Homo sapiens: one gene and its partners. The protein of the gene in region 2 purifies or fractionates together with the protein of the main gene of each other region. This does not show direct contact. Each region holds a gene or a part of one and is shown on either strand. Other genes may lie near its edges. The genes, in order: GMIP, GCK, AGL and PPP4R3B.

The links.
Region 1: the proteins of GCK (region 2) and GMIP fractionate together in Homo sapiens (co-fractionation; one large-scale study listed by BioGRID). This does not show direct contact.
Region 3: the proteins of GCK (region 2) and AGL fractionate together in Homo sapiens (co-fractionation; one large-scale study listed by BioGRID). This does not show direct contact.
Region 4: the proteins of GCK (region 2) and PPP4R3B fractionate together in Homo sapiens (co-fractionation; one large-scale study listed by BioGRID). This does not show direct contact.

The regions. Positions count from the first base shown.
Region 1 is NC_000019.10:19,640,855-19,645,179, reverse strand, and holds the start of GMIP (GEM-interacting protein), read left to right. Parts: upstream 1-1,522; 5' UTR 1,523-1,650; coding exon 1,651-1,669; intron 1,670-2,560; coding exon 2,561-2,645; intron 2,646-3,128; coding exon 3,129-3,204; intron 3,205-3,312; coding exon 3,313-3,370; intron 3,371-4,325. UniProt on the Homo sapiens protein: Stimulates, in vitro and in vivo, the GTPase activity of RhoA.
Region 2 is NC_000007.14:44,182,890-44,186,454, reverse strand, and holds part of GCK (hexokinase-4), read left to right. Parts: intron 1-2,301; exon of another isoform or gene 2,302-2,471; intron 2,472-2,994; exon of another isoform or gene 2,995-3,153; intron 3,154-3,565. UniProt on the Homo sapiens protein: Catalyzes the phosphorylation of hexose, such as D-glucose, D-fructose and D-mannose, to hexose 6-phosphate (D-glucose 6-phosphate, D-fructose 6-phosphate and D-mannose 6-phosphate, respectively).
Region 3 is NC_000001.11:99,916,361-99,919,925, reverse strand, and holds part of AGL (glycogen debranching enzyme), read right to left. Parts: intron 3,517-3,565; coding exon 3,429-3,516; intron 3,329-3,428; coding exon 3,195-3,328; intron 1-3,194. UniProt on the Homo sapiens protein: Multifunctional enzyme acting as 1,4-alpha-D-glucan:1,4-alpha-D-glucan 4-alpha-D-glycosyltransferase and amylo-1,6-glucosidase in glycogen degradation.
Region 4 is NC_000002.12:55,597,105-55,600,669, forward strand, and holds part of PPP4R3B (serine/threonine-protein phosphatase 4 regulatory subunit 3B), read right to left. Parts: intron 1,936-3,565; coding exon 1,312-1,935; intron 1-1,311. UniProt on the Homo sapiens protein: Regulatory subunit of serine/threonine-protein phosphatase 4 (PP4). May regulate the activity of PPP4C at centrosomal microtubule organizing centers.

The DNA of each region.
Region 1 (4,325 bases), on a different chromosome or scaffold from region 2:
CTGTGCCACACGGTGTTTGCTGGGGGCTCGGGGACAGAGGGTCACTGAGGAAGGTCCCAGCACCCTCCCCACAGGCGTGTGATGTTGGTGAAACCCTCTGGCACTTTCAGCACTTGAACATGGACTTGTCCCTGCCCAGAGAATTCAGTGCATATTTTCTAGTTTAACAAGCACCCCCATATTTCTGAGGTCTCTTTCACATTTTAACAACTCAGGTGCTGAGAGAAGCCTTAGGATGTGTGATATTTTTTTCTTTCCCATAATACATAACAGCATGCCTTTCTCTCGGGTGGTGTCTGAGACTTGAGGAATATGATCTGCATCATTACAAGTATTGACTCTGTCCGGTGGCTCAAGCCTGTAATCCCAGCACTTTGGGAGGCCAAGGCGGGCCCATCACAAGGTCAGGAGATCGAGACCATCCTGGCTAACACAGTGAAACCCCATCTCTACTAAAAATACAAAAAATTAGCCAGGCATGGTGGCGAGTGCCTGTAGTCCCAGTTACTCGGGAGGCTGAGGCAGGAGAATGGCGTGAACCCAGGAGGTGGAGCTTGCAGTGAGCCGAGATAACGCCACTGCACTCCAGCCTGGGCAACAGAGCGAGACTCCAACTCAAAAGAAAAACAAACAAGTACTGACTCTGTCATGCTCTTTGGGGGCCTGCGCTGCTCTACCATCTCATGTCACAGTCAGGGAGCTCTGGCTGAGCATCAGCCAGGATGTGACCTGGAAACCTGGCTTGGCTCTTAGGTTGATAGTGTTATTCCTTTCAATGGACTCACTCATCACAACTCAAGAACTGCAGAGTAGGCAGCACGGAGCCAGTCAGAGAATCCTTGCCTCCTTAACAGCCAAAGCCTTTGGACACAAAGTTATAAACATACTTTAAAGTCTATTTCCAGCCCCAAAATTCCACTGTGCTGGGGGTGGGAGCATTTTTATAACAGGCGGCTTGTGGCAACCCCAGAGCTGGTGCTTTTGGACAAACCTCCACTCCCTACCTAAAAGGGCTGCTCCCTGGTGTGCTGTAATTGGGGCCTTGAGCCTGATCCAGCTTTGAGGGTCACGGAAGGGGCGTCCCCCAGGCCAGGGGTTCTCCAGCCCGAGTATTAGAATTTTGGTTGGAATCGGACAGAATATCAGGCCTCCACCAGGGGGCGCCATGGCTCCAGCGAGGCCCAGGTGGTTTCAGGGCTCCGAGAGACAACCTGGGCAAGGGGATCACCAGGGTCGCGGGTTGTGGGAGCTCCTGGGAGAGGCCCCCCGGGACAGGTGGACTCTGCAACCATTCAGGGAGGAGGGGGCTGGGGCTCCGTGGGATTTGGGGTAGCACAAAGATCTGAGAGGGAACCTATGGCCCAGATGAAGTCTTAGGATGCCCAGGTCAGGGGCACTGCAGCCTCGAGTGGTCGCTCAGGGGGCCCTGGCCCGACCCAGTTTCAAGCGGCTCAGGTAGAGAAGGGCACTATCAAGGCTTCCGGGCTACGGGGGCGTGGTCTGATGCGGGGGCGTGGCCTCCGCTGGGCAGGGCGACGCGGAACCGAGGCGGCGGCGGCGGCTGCGGCGGCAGGAAATCGGGGCTCGGCCCCGCCGGCGCGCGACCCCATCCCCATCCCGGTCCCTGCAGAGCGATCCCCGGGCCCAGATATGGACGCAGCAGAGCCGGGTAGGGGGTCGGGGATCCGGGAGGGGCCTCCCCCGACCATCCCCTGCTTCCTACATTGAGGGCACACACTTGTCCCGCTCCGTCCTGAGAGCCAGGAGAGGAGTTCCTGAATGGGAAGGACCCAGGGATCCTCCATTGTGGGGAGCCCTGTGCCCGGATGGGTTCAGGACCCCAGCCCTTCACTCCCCCTCCCCCTTTTGATCCCTCACCCCAGACGCCTGGGGGAGGGGGCCCAGGAAGGGGAAGTGACTGCTTCTGCTTCTGATTTTTGTGATGGGGGCAGGGTGCCACGACTGCTGAGGGAGAGGGCAACGCGGTAGGATCCCCACAGGGCCCCTCTGTAGCCCTGGGGAGTCGGCAGTGCTGGTCTAGGCCCCTTAGGAGAGGGGGCAGGGGGGCAGCAGTAGAAATGTGGCGGGGTCCGACTTGGTGTTTCCGGCCGTCTTTGTGTCTGTGTTGTGTATGTGGAGTGTCATTCGGTCTTTATGTCCCTCACGGCTTCAGTCTCTCCATGTGTGTTTCTGCCCCAGGCTCTGCCTGGCTGTCCCTTGTGTATTTCCATCTGTCTAGCCCGTGGTTCCATTGTCAGACCGGCTTTCTTCTCGGGACAGCCTGGTTGCATCTGGGGCATCTGTTTTGTTGGTTTGCTTCTGGGTGCAGGCAGACCCAGGGAGTGGGTGTCTCTGTTCCCCGAGCAGCTGTCTCTGGTCTCTGGTGGTGTGTGAGTCCATCTGCCTGCCTCGAGTTGGCCCCAACCAAGCCCCCCCCAGCCCTCTCTTTCTCTCTCTCACTCTTCCCTTTCTCTTCCACCCCCTCCAAATGAGACTGGTTGAGGTGCCGTGGGTGGAGGGAGGCAGTGGTTAGCCCATGTATTACACTCCCCTCCCCTAGGACTCCCCCCAGGTCCTGAGGGCAGGAAGAGGTACAGTGACATCTTCCGGAGCCTGGACAACCTCGAAATCTCACTGGGGAACGTGTGAGTCTGAGCCTGGATCACCCCCAAATCCTGCCAAGATGCCCCAAGCCCCTAACCATTTAGGTGCCTTGCAGTCCCATTTGGAACCTGTAACATCTGGACCTACATACCTAATAACCAGAGAAGTCTAGGATGGGACCCTCCAAAATGCCTCGGTATCCTAAAAGTGTCCCCCTAAATAGACTGGAAATCCCCAAAGTGGTCCTAGAACCCCTACATATCCTTGTAACCCCTTAAAATATTTGCGATCCCTATAATCCCACTCTATGAACCTCAAAGTTATCTGGGGCCCTTCAGATGCTTTTTCAAGTCCTATTTAAAAAAAACTCACCTGATTCCCCCAAAACACCATTCTTCAGACCTCCCAGACACAAGAGATGCCACAGAGGTGATGTTTGCCACAAACAACCCTAAGGTCCCCAGCACCCCTTGGCAGGACAGACTGGGTGTAAGGTGGCATCCTGACACACCTTTATCCCCCAGGACCCTTGAGATGCTGGCTGGAGACCCTCTACTCTCAGAAGACCCAGAACCTGACAAGACCCCTACAGCCACTGTTGTGAGTGGGGAGTAGGGGAACAGGGAGGAAGACCTCAAGCAGAGGGGGCCTTAGGAAGGCCAGGCCCCTGCCCTGTTTGCTTCTGAATACTGTCTCCCTCCCGCACAGACCAACGAAGCCAGCTGTTGGAGCGGCCCCTCCCCAGAGGGTCCTGTACCCCTCACAGGTAGGGGGGTCTGGAGGCCAGGACAGTGGGGACAGACAGGAGTCTTTCCTTCAACAAATCACCACTGATCCCCTGTTCCATGCAAGGCATCGTTTAGGTTTTGGGAATATGGCAGTACACACAACAGATCTCAGTCCCAGCCCTCAGGGAGACCCCAGGCAGGGTGGAGGCTGAGGTAGGAGGATCACTTGAAGCCAGGAATTCGTGACCATGCTGGGCAACAGTAAGACACCATCCCTACCAAAAGAAAAAATATTTTTTTAATTAGCTGGGTGTGGTGGTGTGTGCCTGTAGTCCCAGCTACTTTGGAAGCTGAGGCTGGAGGACTGATTAAGCCCAGGACTTTGAGGCTGCAGTGAGATACGATTGTGCCACTGCACTCCAGCCTGGATGACAGAGCAAGACCATGTCCAAAAAAATCAAACACAAGGCCGGACGCAGTGGCTCACGCCTGTAATCCCAGCACTTTGGAGGCTGAGGCGGGTGGACCACGAGGTCAGGAGATCGAGACCATCCTGGCTAACATGGTGAAACCCCATCTCTACTAAAAATACAAAAAAATTTAGCCGGGCGCAGTGGCGAGTGCCTGTAGTCCCAGATACTCGGGAGGCTGAGGCAGGAGAATGGCGGGAACCCAGGAGGCGGAGCTTGCAGTGAGGCAAAATAGGGCCATTGCACTCCAGCCTGAGCGACAGAGCGAGACTCCGCCTCAAAAATAAAAATAAAAAAACCCATCAAACACAGGCCGGGCACGGTGGCTCATGCCTGTAATCCCAGCACTTTGGGAGGCCGAGGCGGGCAGATCACCTGAGATTGGGAGTTCGAGACCAGCCTGACCAACATAGAGAAACCTCGTCTCTACTAAAAATACAAAAAATTAGCCGGGCATGGTGGCGCATGCCTGTAATCCCAGCTACTCAGGAGGCTGAGGCAGGAGAATCGCTTGAACCCGGGA
Region 2 (3,565 bases):
CCTGACTTGCAGACCGCCACCTTCTTGCTGTGTCCTCACATCGTGGAGAGAGAGTGAAAACAAGCTCTCTGGTGTCTCTTCTTATAAGAATGCTAATCCTATGATGGGGGCTCCCCCTCCTTACCTCATCTAAACCTAATTATCTCCCAAAGGTCTCATCTCCAGATACCATCACACTGGGGTTAGGGCTTTGACATATGAATCTGGGGGGACACAATTCAATCTGTAACACCAGGAGGGCATGCCGGGAGGAACTGACCTTCCTCCCTCCAGCTGCCCTGGACACCTTTGCCCCATTGAAGGAGCAGGCTCAGAAGTGGAATGAGGATGGAATAAGGTGCACTCCATCATGCTTACCCACATCCCTGGCAGGAATTGTCCTGGGCCCCAGCAGGAGAGATGCCCCCCCATACTGCCATGGCACCTGCTCTGAGACAGGTGTGCAGAGTGCAAAGCTCCAGGTGGCCCCCAAGCAGGTGTGCTGGGAGGAGGGGCCCGTGTGGGAGGAGCAGGCAGCGCCAAGGCCTAGCGGAGCAGTGACAGGTCCCTGACTTCAGGGAATGGGCACGCTGTGGGCAGGCAGCTGGTGTGGGGGTGAGGGCTGGGGCTGCATCTGTGGGACCAGGGCTGGGCCATCCATCATATGCCGTGTCACAACCCCAGTGCCCCTGCTGTAGCCAGGACAGGAGGCTGGGCCAGGCTGGGAGGTGACAAGAGTGGGGGCTGTCCCCAGGAGAAGCACTCTGCTGCCTGTGCCCAGGCCTCTGGGGATGAGGACCCCTCAGAAGGAGTAGCTATGTCTAGGAAGCCCCAGGGCAGGAGCAAGCCAAAGGGGACATCATTAGTGAGATCCAGGGGATCAGTGGGCCACAGAAGCCCCAGCGTGAGCCCCTCTGACTGATGCAGCTAGGCCCACACCTGCACCTGCCCACAGCAAGACCCCCAGGAGGAGAGGGGACAGATGGAGAGAGGCACAAAGTGCCCCTGGCCTCTGCCTTGAAGCCACCCCAAGGCAAGAGAGATTTGAGCCCCTGTTTAGTGACCTCCAGGGGAACATTCTGGCCCATCTGATGTGGGAAGCCCCTTGTGGAGTCTGTCATTCCTCAGCTGAGCCAGGCCTTTGGAGGCAGCCCAGGCATGTCCCCTGTGTGCTCCTATCCCTGTGTTGGGACACCTGGCCCAGCCCCTCCTTCTGCCTTTCTCTTCCCTTCCCTTCTCAGGAGTGGACACTTCCTCCTTTAGCCCCCTCACAGCTGTGTGAACTTCTCTGTATCTCTCTCTTTCTGTCTCTTTCTCCCCCTCTCTCTCTGTCTCATTGTCTCTCTGTGTGTCTGTCTGTAGTATTCTCTCTCTGTCTCTGTCACTCTGTCTCTCTCTCTCTCTGTGTCTACCTTTCTGTATTTCGCTTTGTTTCTTTTTCTCTGTGTGTGTGTGTGTGTATCTGTTTTTCTCACTCTCTCTCTGTGTCTATCTTTCTGTATTTCGCTTTGTTTCTTTTTCTGTGTGTGTGTGTGTGTATATCTGTTTTTCTCACTCTCTCAATCTCTCTCTCTCTTTCTGTCTCTCTTTTGCTGGCCTGAGCAAAGAGGGAGCCCCATCCTGATGCTACATAACCGTGAACCAGCACAGACAGAATTGTAGGAAAGTCCTGCAAGTAGAAGGATAGAAGGATGAGGGAAGAAACGCCATGTGAGTCATGACAGATCCCTTTCCAGGAGCCACTGACTCACCCTGCCTCCTGCCCTCCCACTGTGACACTATTACTCACAGACAGGCCCGGATTAAACCTATGTTCCAGGTGCCCTGTGGTTCCCACAGTGTGGCTCCCTGGGTCTGGCCTCAGGCTCCACAGGTGCCCAGCCCTGCCAAAGTCTCCAGAGCAGCTGTCCAGCTGGGGAGCTGCGGGGCCCCTTCACAGAGCGCATGGGAAGAAGTTCCATCCTACACATTACATCGAGAGGGACGTGCCTGAGAAGGGGAGCTGGAGCCCGTGCAGCCCCCTGCTTGCGTGCAGAACATAGTGTACCCTGAGCATGCCATGAAAAACACAAACGCACAAAGTTGTAAAGAAAAAAGAAATGACAGGTGGCTGTAAAATCAGTTATAGCCCACGAGAGGCCCACTAATGAGTGGTGATTTCAGCTGATTACAAAGAAATGATGGTGTTTCTGTAATGAACTAAACATGCACTCGTGCGTGCACACACGCGCACGTATAGTCACATAACTGACCAGCCCTATGCATCACTTGTTAATTACTTAGTAACTGTAACAATAATAGTTTCCAATAAGTGAGCCTTAGTCTCTGCGCAAGGGTCAGTTTATTGAGCACACGGGGGCCTTGCAGTGGGGGCAGGTGATCTGCTCCTGGGAGCCGCCAGCCTCTCCTCTCCTGCTCTTCATCTTCCTCCGTGGTGGGAAATTGTCTCACTGCTTCTACACCTGAGGCTGAACATCTCCCTTTATTTCAGTCTGAAACACATGTAAAAATATACTGGAATGAATTAAGGTTGCAATTATTGATATCAGGCAGTGAGTACATCAGGGTTTATTATACTATCTCCTTTACTTACTTCGAAGTTCTCTATTACCAAAAAATTAAAAACTATAAAAGAAAGAAAAAGGAAATGAGGCTAGATTCAACACAGATTACTCTTACCAAACCCTTCGTAGTCCCAGGAGTCCCCTAACACAAGCACTTGTGACCTGGAGTGATATTCACAGCATTCCTTACCTGGCAATACCTGAGTATTAGCCCCCCCAGTGGGATCTTTGTTGTAGACAACCAGCAACTATCAGCCCAGCCAATAAACAAGTAGGAAAGGGGAGTGCTGGAGAGGCCAAGAAGTGGGATTTTCCATGCTCCTGGGCTGTGATCCAGAGGGCACGGCTGTGAGGCTGATCTCAATGAACACTCTGTCTTGGAAGTACAGGGATCCTCTGCTACCTGAAAACGTTCTGAGTATTCACTTTCATGGATTGCAAAGTCATTTACCCAAAATTCACTCTCCAAATGAAAAGTGAGTATGATGAATCAGTATTCAAGTTCCACCTGGGTCCTGGGAGAGGGCATGGACATCATATCCCAGCTGTTCCGACAGGAGGACCCAATCTGAGTCTCACTGCCTGCCTGCATCGTTTGTCTGCTGCCAGCCTGCACAGTAGGAAGGGAAAACATGATTTGTATCTGTTTTAGGTCAGGTTCCCAAGAAGTAGAGCCTGAGATTGGAATTCTTGGAAAATGGTGTTTGCGGGAGCGCTGTCAGCAGAAGCTATAAGGAAGTTGGGGGGACAGAAAACGAGAGGTAAGAAGCCAGTCAAAAAGGCAGGTCCAGCTTAAGTCCGCCTCAGTCTGGTTCCACAAGGGCTCTGATGCATGAAGAATATCACAGGGTTGTCCCTCCTGGGAGAGGGGCCAGCCTATTGTACCTGTATCAAAGCCACCAGCTGAGGGCCAGTGGGGAGGGAAGATCTTCCAGGCATTTCCAGGAAACTCTCAGGAGAAGGGTGTAGCTGTGAGCAGTCTGCAGCTGCTGCTCACTGCGGCTAAAGGCTGGGTGTGCAGG
Region 3 (3,565 bases), on a different chromosome or scaffold from region 2:
GGATGTTAGAGTCCAAGAGGTATGAAGAGGGAGTCCACCAAGGGTGAGAGTGGTCCAGAGTGGGTAGTTAGAATCCAAGTGGTGCCAGGAGGGCTCCACACATAGAGGTGGCTTACTGTGGGGTAGCAGGCCCAAGCTGGGTGAGCAGACTCTATGTGGTGGTGATGGCCCAATGTGGGAAGTAGGTTATTCATTGTTGGAAAAGGGAATTACAAATATAGAAAGGGAGAAAAATAGAATTAAACACTGAGAAATAGCTTGGAACTGGTGTAAACTCAGGTTTTCAACACACATAGACAGGATACATTGAGATGAAGATAAGTGTGTATGTATTTACTTATGTTTATGTATTATTATATATTCCCTAGCCCTATCTACTGGGGGTCATAGTAATAATAAATACACCATGTGCTCAGATCTGGCTTCTAAATAACATTTTTCACTATAAAGAACAAGGGATCCTTAGAGAATTGCCCAATTCCAGGCTGGGGTAGTGAAAGTGAAAGATGAGTGTTGAAAACCTTGCTGGGCCAGAAAGCAAGGAAGGACTTCCATATGTGACAAACAGGAAGTAGTATGGACAGAATTTCCCTCCTGTCTGATACAACTGAAGAACTGGACATTAAGACATTAGACATTAGGCAACAAATAGCGATCCTTGAAGGATGAGAAACAAATGAAGCAAACCCTATGATTACCATACCTTACTGCCTTGAGAGTTTCCAGGATTTGGCACAGAGAGGGGGAACACAGGTGGAGCCTGGCAGACTTCCTTGAGTTGAACTGAGAATCCAGGAACACTACAAAGCAGCTACAATTTGCAGGATAGAGTACTAGAGAGGAAGGAGCTGTACAAAGAGAGAACTCTGAAGATATGCAGAGGGTCCCACTCAAGTATCTGTAGTGTACCAACCAGCAAATTCACAAGAGGAAACTACCAAAGAACAAGGAAAGAACCATCCAAAAGGATGAGAAGAAGCAGTATGTGGCACTCATACAGCGTCAGGAACACTTGCTTGTTCCCACCAGCCAGATTTGAAAACGTCATAATTTTCGAAATACAGGGTAGGGAACACAGATGGGTCTTGATTCACTAATGGAGAATAATTATTCCTAGACCAAATGCTATTCTGGTCAGGTCTAACAAGCTTAAAATCAAGACCAGAAAGGATCAAACTGTTTCCAAGTAATTTCACTGCATTCCAAAACAAAGCTCAAAAACATTTACAGAAACACCAAAAATCTAGCACCCAACAAGGTAAAATTCACATCTGGTATCTAATAAAAAATAACCAGGCAAATGGCTGGGTGTGGTGGCTCATGCCTGTAATCTCAGCACTTCAGGAGGCCGAGGTTGGGGGACTGCTTGAGCCTAGGAGTTCGAGACCAGCCTGGGCAAGATAGCAAGACCCCTGTCGCTCCAAAAATCAAAAAACAAAAACTACCAAGCAAAGAAGCAGGGTGATATGACCCAAAATAAAGAGAACAATCACAAGCAAAAGCAACCCAGAAATGAATTAGCAGACAAGGATATTAAAAGAGTCACTGTAATCATATTCCACATGTTCAAAACATTAAGCAGAGACATGGAAGATATAAAAACAGCCCAGATAAAACTTTGAGAAATGAAAACTACAACGTTGAAATGAAAAACACCAGCATGGATGTGATGGTAGGTTAGACATAAAAATGATGCAGATTTCTTATCAAAACAATGTAACCACCTTAAAGTATGAAAGAGAAAAAAGCTTAACTTTGAATTCTATACATAGTGAAAATATCTTTAAAATAAAGGCAAAACACAGATGTTTTACACTTATAAGAATTGAAAGAATTCATCATGAGGAGGCAAACACTACAAGACATGATGGAGAAAGTCCTTCGGGTAGAAGGAAAATGATACAAGATGGAGATACAGAACATCACAAACATATGAAGAGCACTGAAAATGGCAACTATAAGAGTAATTAGACTTTTTAATATATTATTTAAAGATCATTAAAACATAACTGACTGCCTAAACAAATGTAGTAACCATGTAGTGTGGGGGGTAATAACAGGTAAAAGCAAAATGGATGATGATGATAGCACACAGGCCGGGAGGGGAAAAATAAAACTATACTATTTTAAGGATCTTTATACCTTACTTGAAGTGGTATATCACTGGAAGGTAAACTATAAAGACATATACTATAAACCTAAAGCAGCCATTTTAAATAAACAAGAATTACATCTAATTAGCCAACAAAGGAGATTAAAATGAAATAATAAATATTCAATGCAAAAGAAGCACAAAAAGAGGAAAAAGCTAACAAAGAACAGACAGAATAAACAGACAACAAACATTTAAATTTCACAATTTCAGACCTTAAGTGTAAATGGTCTAAATATTCCAAAAGCAGAAACTGTTGTGCTACACGAGAGCAAGGCCCGATTACATGCTACTATGTACAAGAAAGCCACTTTAAATACAAAGACATAAATAGCTTAAAAGGATGGTAAAATCTGTACCATGGTGACAACCAAACAAAACAGACCAGGAGTGGCTCTATTAATATGAAACACGCAGAAGTCCCTTATGTGCTTGTAAGAAAGGAGATAAAATTTGTGCTGTTTATTCATTATCTGAGGAATAGAATATAGATATACTTAGGTATAATCTAAAATTTGAGGAATTAAGATACACTCTGAATTTATACTCTTATAAAGATACGTAACTCTGACACTGTCTATTTGCTAATAATTAGGACAAGGAAGTGAAAAATGTTTTTTGAACTAACAGGCAAAAGACCAGTTCTGATATTTTAACTATAATGAAAGCATTTCTGAAAACTATTTCTTGATATATCTTTAAATCAATTAACTCAAAAGGCCCAGGCTGAGTACCTTCAGTTTTTATATTTATCCTGTGCTAACCACATCCAAAAACATCAGGGAAATTTTAAAAATCAAAGACTATTCCACATGTATAAATCGCACAATATCAAGACCTCAACTTAAAATAAATAACAACCCAAAATAAGAGAAAGTGAAAATTATATAACAGAATTTGTCATGTTAAAGAATAAAGGCTTCACTTTTCATTGGGATACCTAGGGCATACAGAAATCAATTCTAAGAAACTGTAATTTACCTAATAGCTAATAAACTGACTAAACACTAGTTATGGAAATTACATGCTCCTGATGACTTACCTCTCAAGATGAACATAATGTCGGGAAAGAACATTTTTAACCAAAACTATAGTCTTTGCAGTAGTCTCCGGGCCCATCAATCTGGAAAAATATAATTTTGCACGAAGAAAATACCCAATAGGCCACAGCCACTCCTAAAAAAGATTATTTAAAAGACAAAAAAAACCATAAATACCTAAAAATTACTTGAAAAATAATTTAAACTGAAACTCAGAAGATAAATGAAATTCTTACAGGTCCTTGGTGATAATTGAAACCTTTAGCAAGATTGTAGTTGTCATTGTCTAATGCATTGTCATAAATTCCACAGTAAACCATATCACTGCAAAATGATTGAAATTTAAGTTAAATAAAAGATGATCAGATATTAT
Region 4 (3,565 bases), on a different chromosome or scaffold from region 2:
GATGATGAAAAAGTTCTGGAAATGGATAGTGGTAACTGCTGCATAACACTGCAAATATACTTAATGCCAATGAATTGTACACTTAAAAATTGTTGAAACTGGCCGGGCACAGTGACTCATGCCTGTAATCCAAGCACTTTGGGAGGCCGGGGCAGGTGGATCACCTCAGGTTGGGAGTTCGAGACCAGCCTGACCAACATGGAGAAACCCCCCTCTACTAAAAATACAAAAAATTGGGCTGGGCGGGGTGGCTCACGCCTGTAATCCCAGCACTTTGGGAGGCTGAGGTGGGTGGATCACAAGGTCAGGAGATCGAGACCATCCTGGCTAAAATGGTGAAACCTTGTCTCTACTAAAAACACAAAAAATTAGCTGGGCGTGATGGCGGGCGCCTGTAGTCCCAGCTACCCGGGAGGCTGAGGCAGGAGAATGGCGTGAACCCGGGAGGCGGAGCTTGCAGTGAGCCAAGATTGCGCCACTGCACTTCAGCCTGGGCGACCGAGCAAGACTCCGTCTCAAAAACAAACAAACAAACAAACAAACAAAACTAGCTCGGCGTGGAGGCACATGCCTGTAATCCCAGCTACTCAGGAGGCTGAGACAGGAGAATCACTTGAACCCAGGAGGCAGAGGTTGCGGCGAGCTGAGATCATGCCATTGCACTCCAGCTTGGGCAACAAGAGCAAAACTCCATCTCAAAAAATAAATAAATAAATAAATAGTCAAAACGGTGAATTTTATGTTATGTATATTCTACCTCAATTTTAGAAACACAAATACTAAATTGTATAAAAAGCTAAAACACAGGCTACTTAAAAATATAAAAGGCTGGGCTGGGCGCGGTGGCTCACGCCTATAATCCCAGCACTTTGGGAGGCTGAGGCGGGCGGACTGCCTGAGCTCAGGAGTTCAACACCAGTCTGGGCAACACAGTGAAACCCCTTCCCTACTAAAAATACAAAAAAATCAGCTGGGCATGGCAGTGCACACCTGTAGTCTCAGCTAATCGGGAGGCTGAGGAAGAAGAATTGCTTGAACCCGGGAAGCGTAGGTTGCAGTGAGCTGAGATTGCGCCACTGCATTCCAGCCTGGGCGACAGAACGAGACTCCGACTCAAAAAAATAAATAAAAGGTTGCACTAAAACCACAAGACATAAAGTCCCAATTTCTTTTGTTTACTTTAAATGTACTTAATAGTACATTTAAACAAAATAAATCTTTCAAAAAATAGAGGGTATAAACACCTGCTTGAACTATTAAGGGAACTAAATATCTGAAAAATGGAATCGTGAAGAGTATCTTTTTACTTACCTGCAACATGCTGACTATCTCAACTTTGTTGAAGAAAATAAAAGACGTAAGAGTAGAAAGAAAATTCTCTTCAAAAACAGATGGTGTGGGCAAAATGATGTCCTGAATGTACTGTACCCTGTAAGTCTGATGTATTTTTTGCCTTAGTTCAGAGTCTGTTATTGGTATAACTTCCTTGAACTTTGCAGTTTTGGTCAAGAATTCTCTATGTCTTTTTGGCTGAGCCAAAGCAGGGTCATATTCAAGGCATCCCACGACATCCATGATACACTCATCAGAAAACATTACCTCAAAAAGAGTTGCCTTATTTAGGAATAAGATTCCTCTAATAATTTCATACAAATGGTGTAAGCCTTCAGTGTTTTCTAGGTTCTCGCAAGCTTGGAACAGCTGCAATAGTTTTTTAATATAGCCTTCATTTTCCAAGGCGAGAGCCAGCTTTTCCCTACGGATAGGTGAGGAGAGCACTGAGGTAACTAAGTCAGCAATCTCTTCAAGTTTATTGAGTTCACATGTGGGCAGGTCAATCAGATGACTAGTTTCAGGCATTTCTTCAAATCGTTCTTCTTCAGATTCATCAATGAGGTCCTGTGTGACTTCCACTGATGGGTCTTTACCTTGAACCTAAAAATATCCAAGTATACAGCTAATTACCTTAAAATACAAAATAATTCAAAATTTTGGAAATCAAATCATTTGGAAATGCCTGGCTAGTCACTACTAATTAAAAGTGAAGTCTAGGCCAGGCACGGTGGCTCACGCCTGTAATCCCAGCACTTTAGGTGGCTGAGGCAGGCAGGTCTCTTGAGGTCAGGAGTTCAAAACCAGCCTGGGCAACATGGTGAAACCCCAACTCCACTAAAAATACAAAAATCAGCCAGGTGTGGTGGCATACGCCTGTAATCTCAGCTACTCAGGTGGCTGAGGCAGGAGAATCGCTTGAACCTGGAAGGTGGAGGTTGCAGTGAGCTGAGATCGCACCACTGCACTCCAGCCTGGAAGACAAAGCAAGACTCTGTCTCAAAAAATAAAATAAAAAATTAAAATAAAATAAATAAATAAAATAAAATGAATTCTCTTCCAGCTTGGTCCCTGAATGACTCTCATGAGTAGGGCCCCTTCCCCTATTGGTCAAACAGCATTAAGGAGAAATCAACTTTTGTTGTGACAAGCCATTGAAATTTTAGGATTGTATTACTACAACACAATCTGATCATAACGTCTCAGAGACAGCCAATGAACTCTGCTGTATGGATTCACAATAAATCCACACTATCAATAGGGTTTTTCAATAAAAATTCTCTAGTCTATAATCCTATCGTCATCCCTTACAGCTGCTGCTTTAAATATTTTTTCACTTTCCAACTTCTCAAACATTACCTTCACCTTTAAGTCTCAGAAGATAAGAGGCTTCCTTTGAATAAAAAGCCCATCAGTACTCAACTTCCTCTAACATTTCTCCATCTCACAACTTACCTTCACACATTTCCTTCATTCATTTCAAAGGAAATGTCTATACCATTTCCTAAGGTTAACATTTCCATATGTACTTCTAAACTTATGCTTTCTCAAAGCTAAACATATAAAAATTATCTTTGCTCTTGTTTTTATAATTTATTTCTCTCCAATGGTTCCTTCTATTTCATCATTCTCCAATCCCCTTAAGACACTCTGAACTATCTGAACCATCAAACTTTTTCAGGGAAGCTTTTTTGTTCTATTTTCTCATTATAAGGGGTGGCGGCTCACGCCTGTAATGCCAGCACTTTGGGAGGCCAAGTTGGGCGGATCACCTGAGGTCAGGAGTTCAAGACCAGCCTGACCAACATGGAGAAACCCTGTCTCTACTAAAAGCACAAAATTAGCTGGGCGTGGTGGCGCATGCCTGTAGTCCCAGCTACTCGAGAGGCTGAGGCAGCAGAACTGCTTGAACCTGGGAGGCGGAGGTTGCAGTGAGCCGAGATCACACCACTGCACTCTTGCCTGGGCAACGAGAGTGAAACTCTGTCTCAAAAAAAAAAAAAAAAAAAAAAAAAAAAAAGGCGGGCAGGGGTGGTTAAGAAATAATTAAGTAATATGGCGCTTACTGAAATTGAAATTGTCCTTTCAAAGATCAGTAATGACTTCCCAGAACTGAAAAAGTAAAACATGAGATATGATTTTGTGAAATATCATGCAGTAGTTAGGAGCAAAAAACTAAATACATATTCAGCAACATGCACAGATTTTAAGAAGTAGAGTGCTGCGTTGTACA